Linked DNA regions of Homo sapiens. The protein of the gene in region 1 purifies or fractionates together with the protein of each later gene. This does not show direct contact. Each region holds a gene or a part of one and is shown on either strand. Other genes may lie near its edges.

Region 1 (5,158 bases):
TGATGATAGGTGAGCATCCTTAGGGCAGCAAAAAGGTTTTAAAGGTGAGGAGGCTCTCACTAGCCCTTCTTTAGCACAGAGAAGGCAAAGTCTCATAGGCTTCCCATATCAGTGTTTTTAATTTTATTTTATTTTATTTATTTATTTTTTTGAGACGGAGTCTCGCTCTGTCACCCAGGCTGGAGTGCAGTGACGCAATCTCGGCTCACTGCCAGCTCCGCCTCCCGGCTTCATGCCATTCTCCTGCCTCAGCCTCCCGAGTAGCTGGGACTACAGGCGCCCGCCACCACGCCCGGCTAATTTTTTGTATTTTTAGTAGAGATGGGGTTTCACCGTGTTAGCCAGGATGATCTCGATCTCCTGACCTTGTGATCTGCCCGCCTCGGCCTCCCAAAGTGCTGAGAATACAGGCGTGAGCCACCGCGCCCGGCCTTATTTATTTATTTTTGTATGTATGTGACAGAGTCTTGCTGCTCTGTCACGCGGTCTGGAGTGCAGTGGTGCCGTCTCAGCTCACTGCAAGTTCTCCCTCCCAGGTTCAAGTGATTCTCCTGCCTCCGCCTCCCAAGTAGCTGGGACTACAGGTGCTGCCACCTTGCCTGGCTAATTTTTGTATATATATATTTTTTGAGATGGAGTCTTGCTCTGTCGCCCAGGCTAGAGCGCAGTGGCGTGATCTGGGCTCACTGCAACCTCCGCCTCTCGGGTTCAAGCGATTCTCTTGCCCCAGCCACCCGAGTAGCTGGGATTACAGGCACATGCCATCACGCCCAGCTAATTTTTTGTGTTTTTAGTAGAGACAAGGTTTCACCATGTTGGCCAGGCTGGTTTCAAACTCATGCCTTCAAGCAATTCGCCTGCCTCGGCCTCCCAAAGTGCTAGGATTACAGGCGCGAGCCACTGCACCCGGCTACTTTTTGTATTTTTAGTAGAGATGGTGTTTCACCATGTTTGCCAGGCTGGTCTCAAACTCCAGACCTCAGGTGATCCACCCGCCTTAGCGTCCCAAAGTGCTTGGATTACAGGCATGGGCCACTGTCCCGGCCCCCATATCAGTCTTTATGCTTTGGTTGACTGTTTTTCTTGGCTTCTTTATTTGATTTGTTCCCTGGCCTTGAGTTCGGAGTGCTCCCCCTTTTATTTTTCCTGGTGCTGATTGTAGGTGTTCTCCCTGCCCCTTTCTGTTTTGTTTGTTTTTTATGCACTTCACTCTGCAGTGGCAGTGATAGTATGGATTATGACGATTCAAGCTCTTCTTACTCCTCCCTTGGTGACTTTGTCAGTGAAATGATGAAATGTGACATTAATGGTGATACTCCCAGTAAGTGTGCTTGGGGAGATTGGCCAGCCCTGGGCAGGGGTTGGGGGCCCAAGGATGGAGTGGTCTGTACCTGCCTCCCTTGGATTTTGGCAGATGTGGACCCTCTGACACATGCAGCACTGGGGGATGCCAGCGAGGTGGAGATTGACGAGCTGCAGAATCAGAAGGAAGCAGAAGAGCCTGGCCCAGACAGTGAGAACTCTCAGGAAAACCCCCCACTGCGCTCCAGCTCTAGCACCACAGCCAGCAGCAGCCCCAGCACTGTCATCCACGGAGCCAACTCTGTAAGTGAGGAGCGGTGGATGAGTGAGAACCATGGCCTGGGATGTGGGCCTCATCTATTAGGAAAGCCAGGCTGTAGCTATTCATTTGCTGCTTCTCACACAATTTTCTCATCTTCCTCTTCATGGGCCCTAGAGCTTAGAGCCTAAGAGACCTACTTTTGACCCCAAAAGGAGGTCATCAGGCTTTGTTCAGGGTACAGCTATGATCCCCCTTATATAGTTTGTGGGGACAGAGAACGGGTGCTACAGAGATCATTTCCCACACATTCCTTAGGCTAGAAATCTGACAGGCCTGGTCCAGCCCTGCCAAACTGGGATTACAGGAAGGTACCATTGGGCACCAGGTAACCACTTTTAATTTCATGCGGCCTTTAGGAACCTGCTGACTCTACGGAGATGGATGATAAGGCAGCAGTAGGCGTCTCCAAGCCCCTCCCTTCCGTGCCTCCCAGCATTGGCAAATCGAACGTGGACAGACGTCAGGCAGAAATTGGAGAGGGGTCAGTGCGCCGGCGAATCTATGACAATCCATACTTCGAGCCCCAATATGGCTTTCCCCCTGAGGAAGATGAGGATGAGCAGGGGGAAAGTTACACTCCCCGATTCAGCCAACATGTCAGTGGCAATCGGTGAGAGCCTGGGCATCCCTTCTAGATGGGTGACTGAAGGACCTCACCTCAGTGGACCCTGGGCAAGGGTTAATCAGAAAGTCTGAGAAGTCTGAATGCTCTCGTGGTCCTGCCATCCCCAGAGGATGGTGTTCTGATCCAGGGGCTTAGGAATTACGGGAAGGGAGTGGCAACTGTAGTATAGCATAATTATGGCCCATACTCCCAAGATCAGGTACCCCTGCCTGGGGATCATAGGTGCCTCTGTGCATTCAAGGGCTCAAAAGCTGCTGCGGCCCAACAGCTTGAGACTGGCAAGTGACTCAGATGCAGAGTCAGACTCTCGGGCAAGCTCTCCCAACTCCACCGTCTCCAACACCAGCACCGAGGGCTTCGGGGGCATCATGTCTTTTGCCAGTAAGTGCCTTCAGCTGTCTCTCTCACTCCTGTGTTCCATTTTCTCTACAGCAGAGCCTGACTATGGCAAATGTTGCTTAGAACTTCACATGTAGGGCTAGGTTGGCATTAGCAAGCCCTAATCCAGTCATTTGGGTGATACTGAATAAGGCGTTTTCAAGTGAGGTCAGTAAAGGACAGGGACAGATTAGTCATTATGCCTGGACATTTCAGTCTATTTCAGGTAAGACAGCTGGATGGGTAACTGGAAAACAGGCAGTAAATTCAAAATCACACACTTGTACTTATATTTTGTGGAAATACTCTGGTCAAATTTGATTTGAGTCCATATCTGGTATCTTCTTTGCCTCATAACGGACTCTTCCATGAATGTGCTTTGAAATCGATATGAGATTGAATTTTGTGCTTAGATAGTATTCCCAGCAGTGCAGGGTCGTATCAGCTAAAGATTGAAGACAGACCATGGACTAGAGAGAGCGAACGTAGAGGATCCCTGTGATTGTGAGTTTCTTCAGCAGCCAGGGAGGGACAGTGCCAGCTTCAGACCAGAAGCCTGTTAACTGCCAGCTTTCATGCTGTGTAGCAGTGGATGAGAGACTTGGATATTATCATGTGAGGTGGACAGAGAAAGCTGTTACTGGGTTTTGGCTGATCCTGGCAGTGGCTCCATTGTTTGCCTGGAGTTAGACTTGATCCTTTCTAAGACAGATCAGAGATGATCTGATCCACCAAACTGGGATTGTGTTTGAAAAGGAGGGAGGTGCAGATGCTGATAGTCATTAGTCTACTGCTTTGATTACTTACTCTGCCAAGTCATCGCTCTTGCACCCTCCCCTTGATAGGCAGCCTCTATCGGAACCACAGTACCAGCTTCAGTCTTTCAAACCTCACACTGCCCACCAAAGGTGCCCGAGAGAAGGCCACGCCCTTCCCCAGTCTGAAAGGTAACTACAGCCTTCCTTTTGCCAAGCCAGGTTTCTCCGGGAGATGTTTCGGGCTGTGGGTTCATGTCAGGAGCCCTGCATCTGCTGAATCCTTTGACCTGGTTGTCGTCCCTCATGTTGCTCCTCATGGCTTTCACCGCACATCCTGGGCTCTGATGGTTGTCAGATGGAAACCATCTTTGTAGCTAGAGACGGCCCTGTTATGTCATTTAGGACAATGGCAACTGTGGGATTACTGCTGCTTCGCGGGAGGACCCTGTCAGGGTATATGATTAACATAGGGATCATCAGCTGCCCCCAGTCGTCTGCTGGGTTGCCACTGCATGAACTTAGGGCAAATTCCGTGCCAAGGAGCTGGCCCACCAGAGAATGGTTATGGAGAGCCTGGCAGCGTTCATAGAGCACAGCCTCTCACCTCTCACGCACTCATAAGCCTGTCAACCCAGGGCTTAATGAGTGCGCCAGGTAGTATTGGTTAGTTTCTAGGGGCAGTTAAAACCTTATGTGAAAGCCAGGCGCGGTGGCTCACGCCTGTAATCCCAGCACTTTGGGAGGCCGAGGCGGGTGGATCACGAGGTCAGGAGTTCGAGACCAGACTGACCAACATGGCGAAACGCCGTCTCTGCTAAAAATACAAAAGTTAGCCATCTGGTGTCACGCACCTGTAATCCCAGCTACTTGGGAGGCTGAGGCAGGAGAATCGCTTGAATCCAGGAGGCGGAGGTTGCAGTGAGCCGAGGTCGCGCCACTGCACTCCAGCCTGGGTGACAGAGCAAGACTCCGTCTTAAAAAAACAAAAAACAAAAAACGAAACCTTATTTGAATTGGTTTGTGCTATCTGACAGTTTCAGGGGCTTTTCTGAATTTGATTTTTTATTTTTTTTATTTTCTGAGACAGTGTCACTCCGTCACCCAGGCTGGATGGAGTGCAAGGTGGTGATCTTGGCTCACTGTAACTGCCGCCATCCAGGCTCAAGTGATTCACATGCTTCAGCCTCCCGTGTAGTTGGAATTATAGGCACATACCACCTCGCCTGGCTAATTGTTGTATTTTTAGTAGAGACGGGGTTTCACCATGTTGGCCAGGCTGGTCTTGAACTCCTGACCTTGAGTGATCTGCCCACCTTGGCCTCCCAAAGTGCCAGGATTACAGGTGTGAGCCACTGCACCTGGCCTGATTTTTTTGTTTTCTCTGGATGGTATGACGAAATATTTAACTGTGGTAGGAAGTGCAGTGAGAAACATGTATTTTTTTTTTTTTTTTTTTTTTTTTGAGACAAGAGTCTCGCTCTGTTGCCCAGGCTGGAGTGCAGTGGTGCAATCTTGCCTCACTGCAAGCTCCGCCTCCCGGGTTCACACCATTCTGCCTCAGCCTCCTGAGCAGCCGGGACTATAGGAGCCTGCCACCACGCCTGCCTAATTTTTTGTATTTTTAGTAGAGACAAGGTTTCACCGTGTTAGCCAGGATGGTCTCGATCTCCTGACCTTGTGATCTACCCGCCTTGGCCTCCCAAAGGGTTGGGATTACAGGCGTGAGCCACCGCACCTGGCCAACCTCATGTATTCTTTAACTGACCTCTCATT
Region 2 (3,500 bases), on another chromosome or scaffold:
ACACATCATCTTATTTCTCAAAACAACTGGAGCCGGTATTATTATCCCCATTTAACAGATGAGAAAAGTGAGGCTCAAAGAACCTCAGTAAATTAGTCCAGGTCACAAACTAGTAAGTGGCAGGGTTGAGACCCAAATTCAGGTCTATTCAACTCCAATCCCAGCATTCCTTCCACTATTGGCAACAGATTCGCACTATGATGTACAGTCGCCTGAACCACAACAAAATTCCTCTAAAGAACCAGAGTGGTACCCAGCCCACTTTTCCAAGTTTGGCATAAAGAACAGAGCCATGCATTGAATTGGGAGTAACAGCTGTTTGGCCAGGGACCACAGCAAAAAAGTGTTCATGCAGGGATATTTAACCAGCTCAGTGCCCAGAACAGAGTAGAAGCTTGAAGAATATTTGGGTTTTTGTTGTTGTTGTTCTTTGTTTGTTTGTTTTTTGAGATAGGGTATTACTCTGTTGCCCAGGCTGGAATGCATTGGTGCCATCATGGCTCATTGCAGCCTCAACTTCCTGGGCTTAAGTGATCCTCTCACTTCAACCTCTTGAGTAGCTGGGACCACAGGCATGCACCACTATGCTTGGCTGATTCTTTCTTTCTTCTTCTTCTTTTTTTTTTTTTTTTTTTTGGTAAAGATGGGGTTTCACTATATTTCCTAGGCTGGTCTCAAACCCCTGGCCTCAAGCAATTACCTGCCTCAGCCTCCCAAAGTGCTGAGATTACAGGCGTGAGCCATCACTCCCAGCCAAGAATATTTGTTGAGAAGTTGAGTAAATACAGGATTCAGGGTTGACATCGACATCTTCAGCAGGTTACAAAAGAAGGATCTGAGGCTCAGAGAGGCCAGATGACTTGCCCTAGGTCACACAGCAGAGAGAATTGGACAAAGAACCAAAGATGTCTAGACTTTCAGACAAGGATCTTCCTGTCACATCACCGTAACTCCTCTGGCCAGGAAAATTTTTCCTGTACCTTTAATTAAATGCAGTATACTTTGGGGTAAATGAATGCTAACCTCCAACTGAGAACATTTATTTTCCTAATGAGTTCATTAGCAAATGACTCTGCTGCTTCAGGATGCAGAGATAGCTTGGTTAATGCACGTTTCAGTTTTCATATTATGCTATGAGTCATTTTTGTTTATCTTAGAATTTCTTTCCTCATCTGTTGTGTGTGGTGGCCCTAGTCACCAGGGATAGGAGCTTTGTCACTCACTCAGGAAGTGATGGACTGACCCCCTGCGAGTGGATGAAGAAACTGCTCTCATAAGCGTGGTTATGCAGATCAAAGAGTGGGTCCTCTACACATGTTCCCAATTAACTGTGGCCATCCCATTCCATATCCCTTCTACTCGCCAGCATAGTTTCTGATCCTTTAATAGCCCAAACAACAAGAGGGAAGCCCAGCCCAGCCAAAACAAAAGCAGAAAACAGCCAAACGAAGATGAAAACATCCTAGTGATTAGTGAGAGAGCTCCAGATATCCCAGTATCTGGAGCCACCTCGGGATACTGGGATATTTGGAGCTTCTCACCGCAAGGGGTCACCTTATCTGCACCTGGTGTCACTTCCCACAAGGACCCCAGAGCTCGGTCTCTAGCACCAGACTCTGTGCTTTCATACACACTGCTGGCCATCTTCACAATACCTTCACCCAAATGTGGCCATCTTCAATTCAGCATGTTTTATTTGTCCAGCTGTGTAATTAATATCTATGCATTTAACTGTATGTAAATCTTACCTTAACAAAACATAAAAATTAAAAAAAAAGAAGTAAGTTTAAAATGACATTCACCTTTCCCCTCTACCAAAACTCCTCCTCCTGAGGTCTTTAGCTCACCTCAGGGTGTGCCTTGGCTCCCTAAGCCTCCGTACCCGATCAATCACCAAGACCTATTGATTCCACCCATTCCACTTCTCCTGAAGCTTTCCCCTTCTCTGCATTTTCCCATCATCACATTCTACTCAACCTATTGACACTGACCACCTACTATGGGCCAGGCACTGTGCTAGGCTGTAAGTCTACATTATGAACAACACACAAATAGTATCATGCAGGAGTTTGCATTTAGAACCCCAGGTGGAAACTACACCACAGGGGCACTGGTAATACAGCAGAAGTGACTCCCTCTACACAGGGGTGGGGGCTTGGTGGGCTGCACAGACCACAGAGGTCAGGGATGGCTCTGGAAAGTTCCTAGAGAGGCTGATCTCTGTGGAAAGATGAATAGGCATTTGCCAAATGGGCAAAGAGAAGAACTGCATTCCAGCCAATGAGAAGAGCTCAGACAGGAGCAGCTGGAGGGAGTACATAAGCCATTCTGGTTTGTTGGGGATGTGTTTGTTTCTCCAAGAATTTGGTCTAAAGGAGGGGAAAGTGGTAGGAGCTGGAACTGGAGCAGCAGGCAGGAACCAGATCACGGAAGGTTTTGTCAATCCTATTCAGGAGTTTGAATCTTAACCTGTGGGCAGAGGGAATGTCAGTAGGGTTCTAACTAAGGACCTAGTCAGTCTTACTCTTTAGAAAGATCGCTTTAGAAATAATGTCTCTTATGTGAACAACTGCAATTATTTTTCTTAATTCTCATCTCCCCTCCCTCCATACACCATTTCCAAAGTAGAAAACAAGATGATGTGTCTTCCCTAATTAAAAATCAAAACAAAATTAAAACCTCACCACAGCTTCCCATAGCAGACAGCAGCAATTCCAGACTCCAAGGAAAATTGTTCCTGGAGATGTTAAGTTTTGTTATGGGGGGCTGGGGAAGGGGGGAAATCATTTCCTTGCAAAAAAAAAAAAAAAGTTGGATTAACCTTTATACAAAATTAAGCAGGTTTTCTTTTCATTGCAGGACTTCTCAGAGCCTTCAGTTTTCTAAAATCAACTGTGACTCTTTAAAAAGGGGATTCAGCATTCAAATCCCCAACTTATTAAACAAGTGAGCTCCTTGATCTTGGAGCATTGATTAGCATCTTCATGGGCTAGTCTTCTGTGAAATGCTGACCTGCACAATATGAAGTCCAAACTCAACTAGGTGAATAGTCTTGTGAATAATCTAGCCTCAACTTTTATCCCTTCCTGACATACACACACACATCCTTGTATCCTCTGTTCCAACCACACTGGTCTTCTTACTGCCCTTCCCCTCTTTCTATGCTTGAGGAATTCTGGGTCATCCTTTAAGCCATAGCCAAATAGCAACTCCACTGTGAAAAAGTGGTCTGTAGTGAGGGTTGCAGAGATACAGGTTGGTCTGAATCAAGGCTACTGTCCATGAAACCCTCTATGCAGTACGTGGAAATTGTTTGGATGAATAACTCTGTAATCTGCGAATCTGTGAAGAGGGCTGGACTACATTTTACAAGGCAATTAAGGGTTCTTTGTGACTGGCAAAGAGGCTCTGGCCTCTGGAGACTGCACTGTCCTGTATTTAAAGAAACTTCAGTTTTTCCCAGCCTCTCTGCTGTAGATTACATGAAGAACAGAAGCATC
Region 3 (2,728 bases), on another chromosome or scaffold:
GTGTGTCTCACATCTCCACTCAGGAGAGACGGCCCCTGGAAGCATGATGTGGGGGAAACAAGCTGGGTCATTTCCTACAAGGTGGGCTGTAACCAGATGGCTTCTCAGCCCCACCCAACTCTGCGCTGCAGTATGAGGGGACCAGTTTGCGCGGAGCGCTGGTGGGCAGGGGCGAAAGGTGGGGGGTGGCAAGCCCATCTTACCTTACTGCCAGGACTCTCCTCTCCTCAAGAGGGCCCAAAGGGCCCTGAGTGCTGCCCTCCCAAGAGAGCCGACTTAGAATGACCTCCAGAAGGCACTGTGACCTTGGTAGTGTCTTCCCTTCACAGAGTCCCAAAGGGCCCAACTAACTCCCAGACAAGGTGCCACTGGCAGCTGGCCATTCTGAGGCCTCTTACTAGCTGCAGGAGGGGAGTGACTGACGCAGGCCCTGTGTCCACACCCCACTCCAGCCTGTTCCTTCACTGGCATGTGGTCAGATTGAAAATCCAATACAATAGCCCCGATTCTCTGAAAGGCCCCTTCCCCAGGAGAAGCAGATGGAAATTACAGCTGGGAAATCACATCCGAGGTGTCTCCCCCTCCTGCGGAGCCATAGCCAGAGATGAACTTCAAGGTCCTTTGAGTGGGTCTCCCAGCATGGGCCCTGGAGCAGCAGCATCAGCATAGACCTGGGCACTCGTTAGAAATTCTAATTCTTAGGCCCCACCCAGGCCTGCTGAATTAGAAATGTGGGTAGGACCCAGAAATCTGTGTGTTAACAAACCCTCTGGGTGATCCGCGTTTGAGAACCCCTGGTCTGGGCAAGCCCTTCATGTCATAGAGGAAGAAACAAAGAAAGAAAGCCAGAGAGGAGAATGGACATGGCCAAGGCCACGCAGCAAAATGACGGGGCTAGGACCCTGCTGGGTCTGCAGATGGCAGTTCAGGGAGGACACCAAGGAACACCCTCATTGGCCCATTCTACCTGCTAGCTCTCCCTCCCTGAGCTGTTCTTGAAGATGCTACGCCCTCCTCCAGCACCGAGCCCAGGGTGTTTGCTCAAGTTTCCTCGTGGGGGATCAGACAGCTTGGAACCGGGGCTGGAGAGGGAAGCCCTGAGCCCTCAGCAAACATCAGCGCCAAGGGCGGTTGGATCCCTGCCACTTGGGTCTCAAGCAAATGTCCTGCGGCCATCAGAGAAATTCTTCCTGGACCAAGGGATGCCTGAGGCCCTTTCCTTGGACAACTCTGACTCCAGTGCCCCGGGGCAAGCTTTATTTCCTGCTCCAAGAACACGATTCTTCACACAAAAGTCAGCAATCAGCGGTTTCACAAGACTTCCCTCCCCTCCCCCCACCCACAGACAGACACACAGAACAGATCCAGCACATGCTCTGCGGCCCGGCCCCGCCCCACCCGTGCCCGCTGCTGAGAGGGCGGCGCCATCCAGATCCGGGAGAACCCCGGTCTGACAGGTGAGGCTGACTGTTGAGGGACCCCTCTCCGGGACATGGATGCTCCCAGAGGAGCCAGCAGGGGTTGGGGTGGAAGAGGGACACACAGCACGCGGATGGGCTGTGGCCTTAGTGTGGGAGGACCACAATCGTCCTGTCTTAGCTTAAGGATGGGTGTGCCATCAGCAATGGGTGGTACAGGGGGAGTACTGGCAGAAGAGGGAATTTTGGAAAGGGGTGGCCTGGCTGGAGACAGATGGTCAATCTGTCAAGACATCAAAGACCCCAGGGTTGCCACTTCAGCCTCATGCCATGCTCAGCACACGACAAGGGGCTGAGGGCGCCCACTAGGCAGGGCTGGAGAGCTCCTCTGGCCCCACCCCACCCTGCTGACTGGCTCCTAGGAAGCCCTCTCAGCCATCCATCCTAAGTTGACAGGCTGTCCACACTGATGAAATCTCCCCCTCCCTGTTGCTATCTTTCCTCAGGATGGCAAGAACCAAGGGCTTAGCTTCCTCCCATGACTTGATCTGGGGCCACACTGATCGGCCTGCCCACAGGCCTCGGGGACCCAGCATCTCTCTGTGGCTCCGTGGCAAAGCCCTGTGAGGCTGCACAGAGAGCCCACTCCTCCTCCAGTGCTCCTGTGATCTAGTCACTCCACAGCTTCAGGTTGGGACCAGCACTTGGGACCCTTTCTCTGCCACTTGAGACTTGGCCCTGGCCCCACTTGGCATCTCCTCGTCTCCACCCCCCTCCCTGCCTGAGGCCCAACCCCTTCCCTGCCCGGTGTCCAGATGGTCTCCTGCATGGGCAGGCCTGTCCTTCCAGCCCTGGCCTGGCCTCTGTGGCCTGCCCCGGGTCACCCAGATGGGTAGTAGGGGGTATCACTATGGTAGTTGTAATCTGGGCACACCTTCTGGACCAGCCGATAGTCCGTGCTGTAGAAGGCGATGTAGACACAGACGACTTTGAAGGGCTGGGAGCAGCTCCAGGTGGCTGAGCTCTGAGCGTGGTCTCGGGAGCAGATCTTGGCTGGGTCGTGGGTGCAAAGCGAGGTCCGGCGGCCCCGTTCTACCTTCTCCCACTCCATCCGGCAGTTGAAGATTTTGGAGGCCTTGGCTTCGATGAAGATCTGCTGTTCCTGGTGGAACTCTACAGCTTTACTGGGGGGCACGAGGCTGATGGAGATGTTTCCCTGGCCTGTGGCATTGTGTTGGAAGTGGACGCTGAAGGTCCCATTGCCATGGTCCACAATCTTCCCTGTGACGAGCAGGTTCAGGGCCACCGTC
Region 4 (4,099 bases), on another chromosome or scaffold:
CCAACAATGCCACTGTGCTCCTTAGAAGGGCCAGTAATAGAATAATGGAAAGAGAGAAGAGGAGAAAGGAGAATGAGCCAGAAACAGAGCTAGGAAAATGAGGCAGGAAAACATGAGGTCAGAGAGAAACAGAAGGGATCCCCAACTTTTTTTTTTTTATTTTTTTGAGAGGTAGTCTCACCCTGTCACCCAAGCTGGACAGCAGTGGCACAATCTCGGCTCACTGCAACCTCCACCTCCCAGGTTCAAGTGATTCCCGTACCTCAGCCCCCGAGTAGGTGGGATTACAGGTGCGCACCACCAAGCCCGACTAATTTTTGTATTGTTAGTAGAGACACAGTTTCACCATGTTGGCCAGGCTGGTCTCGAACTCCTGACCTCAAGTGATCCACCCGCCTCGGCCTCCCAAAGTGCTGGGATTACAGGCGTGAGCCACTGCGCCCGGCCTCCAACTTTTTTAATGACATGATCAAGGACAGCCTTGGAACAATCCCACCTTGAACTTCATAGGGATTCTAGCTTAGGGGTAGGAGAACAATACAGAAACTCACGTTGATGACAGAGTCCTTGAATTTGATATGCAGCCGGTAGTTAGAGATGGCAATGAGGGCATCGGCTGCCCGGCCCAGGAACTCTACTCCCTCACCCTGCAGCACTGTGAAGGGGACCTGTCAAGGGGCAGAGAAACCTTCAGTCCAGAAGTGAGTGACCACCTTATCCTCTTCTACAGCCCCTGATCTGTGGGATCCCCTCTGGAAAAGGTGGGCCAAGGCAAGAGAGGAGAGTTCTCTCCACGGTAACAGCACCAGGCAACAGCTGTACAGGAAAGCTGCCTTTCCTTCCCTGCGGCCAAAGGCTCCAGGATGCGCAGACAAACCCTCCTCCTCCAGAGACCAGGGAACATGAAGCCAGAGCTCTGGTACCAGATGCCCTTGAGGATTTTTGGGAGAAGGGAGGGTGTTTTTTAACTGGGCAGGGAGCCCCATCTATCCTGGCCCCCAACTCCTCCTTACCTGAAGATTCTCTTCCTCCTTCACTAGTTCCTTGGGGGGGAACAGATCCTTGGCTTGGATGTACTCCAGGCTGGGGGGCCCCTCCTCACCCTGTAGGAAGGCCACAGTCCTAAGTCACCAAGCTCCACTTAGCCCATCAGGCTCATTCTGCTCCTCTCCCCACCAAGAAATCCACAGATACCCACACACACACACCTCTAAAGGTTCTGGTCACCAGAGAAGGGAAAAGAGATCTGACTTGGTTGGAGACAGGGAAGGGTGAAATGGAGAGCATATCAGCCTATTAAGCCTAAGGAAAGAGTGAGGCCCCAGGAGGAATTGGGAATCTGCACTCTTCAAAGAGGGACTCTCCTATAGAACCAACATTTCAAAAATGGAGGAGAGAAAACTAAGGAAAAGAAAGACTCTTTCCCTTAGACCCGCATAAGGGTAAGGCAGGAGTGGGGATGGGAAAGTGCTGTCCTGAGGAAAAGGAGCCAGGTATGGCAGCTGGTTTCAGAGAGAAGGGAAATCAGGCGCCTACAAGCCACTGAAGCTTCAATCTGGTGGGTGAAGGAGACAAAGAGGAGTGGGTGGGGGGATTCAGTCCCACGCCTCTAGAGGGCCTTCACCGACGCTTTCAAAAGGAAGACGTGTTTGAGAGCTGGGCTTATCTTCTTGTTAGACCCACATTGCTGACAAGCCCCCATTACCTGCCAAGTAACCTGCTCTGCCTGCTAATCAGAGGGGAATTCCTGAGGAATACCCACAGCAAGCAAAAGGAACTCCCCTCCCAACCACCAGGGAGGGGACCCGGGGGGATCCACGCGCCTGGGAGGAGCCAGGAGACCCAAGGACAGCCAGGGGAGAGAGAGAGAGGAGGCCCGGCAGACACCCACGGGGAAGGTGGGGGGACAGCTGAGAGGACAGATGGGGGAAGCTGGGAAGGAGCATCAGCCAGAGCGGGAGGAGGGGAGGACCGGGAATGATGCAGAGGTACGGAACCCTGCAGAGGCAGGGAAGATGGAGAAGAGAGGCTGTCTGGGGGACAGTCAAGGAGAAAAGGCTGGCATGCCAGGTGAGGGATGGAATGGTGGAAGAGGGAAGGGACTGGAGCCCCAAGCCAGCTCAAAGACATCCCGTGCTCCCCGACCAACCTCCTAACATCCCATTCAGCCTACTAGCCACATCCCACATCCCCAAGCAAGGATTCAGCGGGTGGGACCAAGAGGGAGAGGCGGAGGTAAAGGGATGTACCCCTGCAGGGCGGGGCCTAGAGATCTGCAGTCAAGGGCAGTGGCTGCGGGGCCAGGATGGACCACAGAATTTCCATTCCTGGCCTTCGACCATCTCCGGCACCCAAAGATTGAAGCAAGTCCAAGAAATAAAAGGGTTAACCCACCTTCCCTGCCCCCCAAACGTTCGGGGCCGGGCCAGGGGCCTCGGGAAGGGGGATGGGCTGAAATCGAGGGCTGACCCTGGGCGGGGCTGCGGGTGCCTCCTAGGCCCCCAAAGGCAGGGTGGGCACTTACGAAGCAGCTAAGCATGGAGCAGGAGACGCGGGCGGTCAGGCTCATGGTCGCGGGCGGTCTGGGCCAGCGCACATGTCCCCGGAGCCGCTGCGCTGCCCGCCAGCCCCGGGCGCCCGCCGCATCCCGGCTGCGGGGCTCGCCAGGTGCAGCCGCGGCGGCCAAGAGGCTAGGGCGCTGGTGGCCGGGCCTCCGCGCGGCTCCCGCGCGCCTCTCCCCTCCTCTCCACAATGGAGCGGGCCCAGCTCCGCCCTCCCGCACGAGTGCAGAAGGGAGGGGAGCCAGGCGAGGGGAGAGCCCGGGACCGCGGCGGGAAGGCGGAGGTAGAGGCGGGGCGGCTCCGCGGGCCCCGCCCACAAGCCCAGCCTCCTCCCTCCCCGCGGACCCTGGGCCTCGTAGGAGGGCGTACCCTACTCCAGGGACCTTTAGGAGCTTTCAGGAATCTGGGCTACGGGACCGCCCACATCTTCTCATTTCCCTTCTTCTAAGGTGAGCCACCCCATGCCCTCTTACAAACCCATCCCCGCGCCCCCTCCCCTAAGTTCCCCCGACGCCTGCTCTGGATCCCAAGGTGGAGCTCACCTACCCGCACCCCATTTGCTTCCTCCTTTCCCTCCAAAACCACTACCCACCATGCCCCTGCCCATCAGGGTCCTTCAATCCCGTGACTTCGTTAAACCTTTCTTTCCCCTTAGAATGGTGCCAGGTTAGTCATTCCACGCTCCTGGAAAGGGAAATGAGCTTTTTATTCCAACGCCCCTACCCAACCCTACTCCTTCAGCTCCATCTCTCCCTTGTTTCACATTCTGATCTCTGGGTAAGAAAGCCCTTCTTGGAGGAGAAAGGATTTCTTAGTCTGGGAAAGTGAAGAGCTAGAAGTATCGACCACAGAAGCTATACAAAAAAACGAAACTTGAAACCCAGGAGCAGCGGAGTAGAGAGAGTTGGGTAGAGGGCCAAGGAATAAGGACCAGGAATAAGGGGCTCAAAATGTCACCAAGAGTCACAGAGGGAGGTGGCTGGAACCCCAAACTTCCTGCACCTTGTAACTTTCAGACACCAGGGCTTTTGTCTTGTTTGGGGGAGAAGGGAGTAATAAAAGAAAACCTGACATTTTATTAAGCATCTACAATGAGCCAGGCAGTTTCTAACATTATCTCAGTAAAACTTTTCAAGCCCCAAGAAGTAAACCTTATCCTGTCTTACTCGTGAGACTCAAGCTTAGAGAGAAAGTATGTAATTTAACTAAGTGGTGGTGCTAGGATTTGAAATTAGATGAAGCTGACTGTGAAGCCCATGCTCTTTTCAGGGTAGCCCAGAAGAGAAAAAGAGGAGCTATCTGTTGGTGGGGGCCAAAACCAGCAGGCTTTCTGAGAAGAGACTGAACCAATAGTGCACACACCAAATCCACATGTCTATGGAAGGAAGGGAGGGAAGGAGGAAATCCTCTCATCTACTGAATTCTTTAACCTGCCCCTAAGCACAAGGGACACCTAAAAGACACCGAAGAGATACTACCAGGTTAAGGGCCTGGTCTGGGCCAGGGCCTACAGCTCTCTAGGCCTTTCCCATCTCACT

The links. The genes of interacting proteins can lie anywhere in the genome.
Region 2: the proteins of MADD (region 1) and TC2N purify together in Homo sapiens (affinity purification with mass spectrometry; one large-scale study listed by BioGRID and IntAct). This does not show direct contact.
Region 3: the proteins of MADD (region 1) and NXPH3 purify together in Homo sapiens (co-immunoprecipitation; one large-scale study listed by IntAct). This does not show direct contact.
Region 4: the proteins of MADD (region 1) and MTMR4 purify together in Homo sapiens (affinity purification with mass spectrometry; one large-scale study listed by BioGRID and IntAct). This does not show direct contact.

What each region holds. Positions count from the first base shown.
Region 1 is NC_000011.10:47,282,961-47,288,118, forward strand, and holds part of MADD (MAP kinase-activating death domain protein), read left to right. Parts: coding exon 1-9; intron 10-1,217; coding exon 1,218-1,321; intron 1,322-1,414; coding exon 1,415-1,605; intron 1,606-1,980; coding exon 1,981-2,234; intron 2,235-2,490; coding exon 2,491-2,630; intron 2,631-3,472; coding exon 3,473-3,574; intron 3,575-5,158. UniProt on the Homo sapiens protein: Guanyl-nucleotide exchange factor that regulates small GTPases of the Rab family. Converts GDP-bound inactive form of RAB27A and RAB27B to the GTP-bound active forms.
Region 2 is NC_000014.9:91,857,537-91,861,036, forward strand, and holds part of TC2N (tandem C2 domains nuclear protein), read right to left. Parts: intron 1-3,500.
Region 3 is NC_000017.11:49,578,871-49,581,598, reverse strand, and holds part of NXPH3 (neurexophilin-3 precursor), read right to left. Parts: coding exon 2,299-2,728; 3' UTR 1-2,298. UniProt on the Homo sapiens protein: May be signaling molecules that resemble neuropeptides. Ligand for alpha-neurexins.
Region 4 is NC_000017.11:58,511,839-58,515,937, forward strand, and holds the start of MTMR4 (phosphatidylinositol-3,5-bisphosphate 3-phosphatase MTMR4), read right to left. Parts: upstream 2,801-4,099; 5' UTR 2,570-2,800; coding exon 2,525-2,569; intron 1,104-2,524; coding exon 1,014-1,103; intron 669-1,013; coding exon 552-668; intron 1-551. UniProt on the Homo sapiens protein: Lipid phosphatase that specifically dephosphorylates the D-3 position of phosphatidylinositol 3-phosphate and phosphatidylinositol 3,5-bisphosphate, generating phosphatidylinositol and phosphatidylinositol 5-phosphate.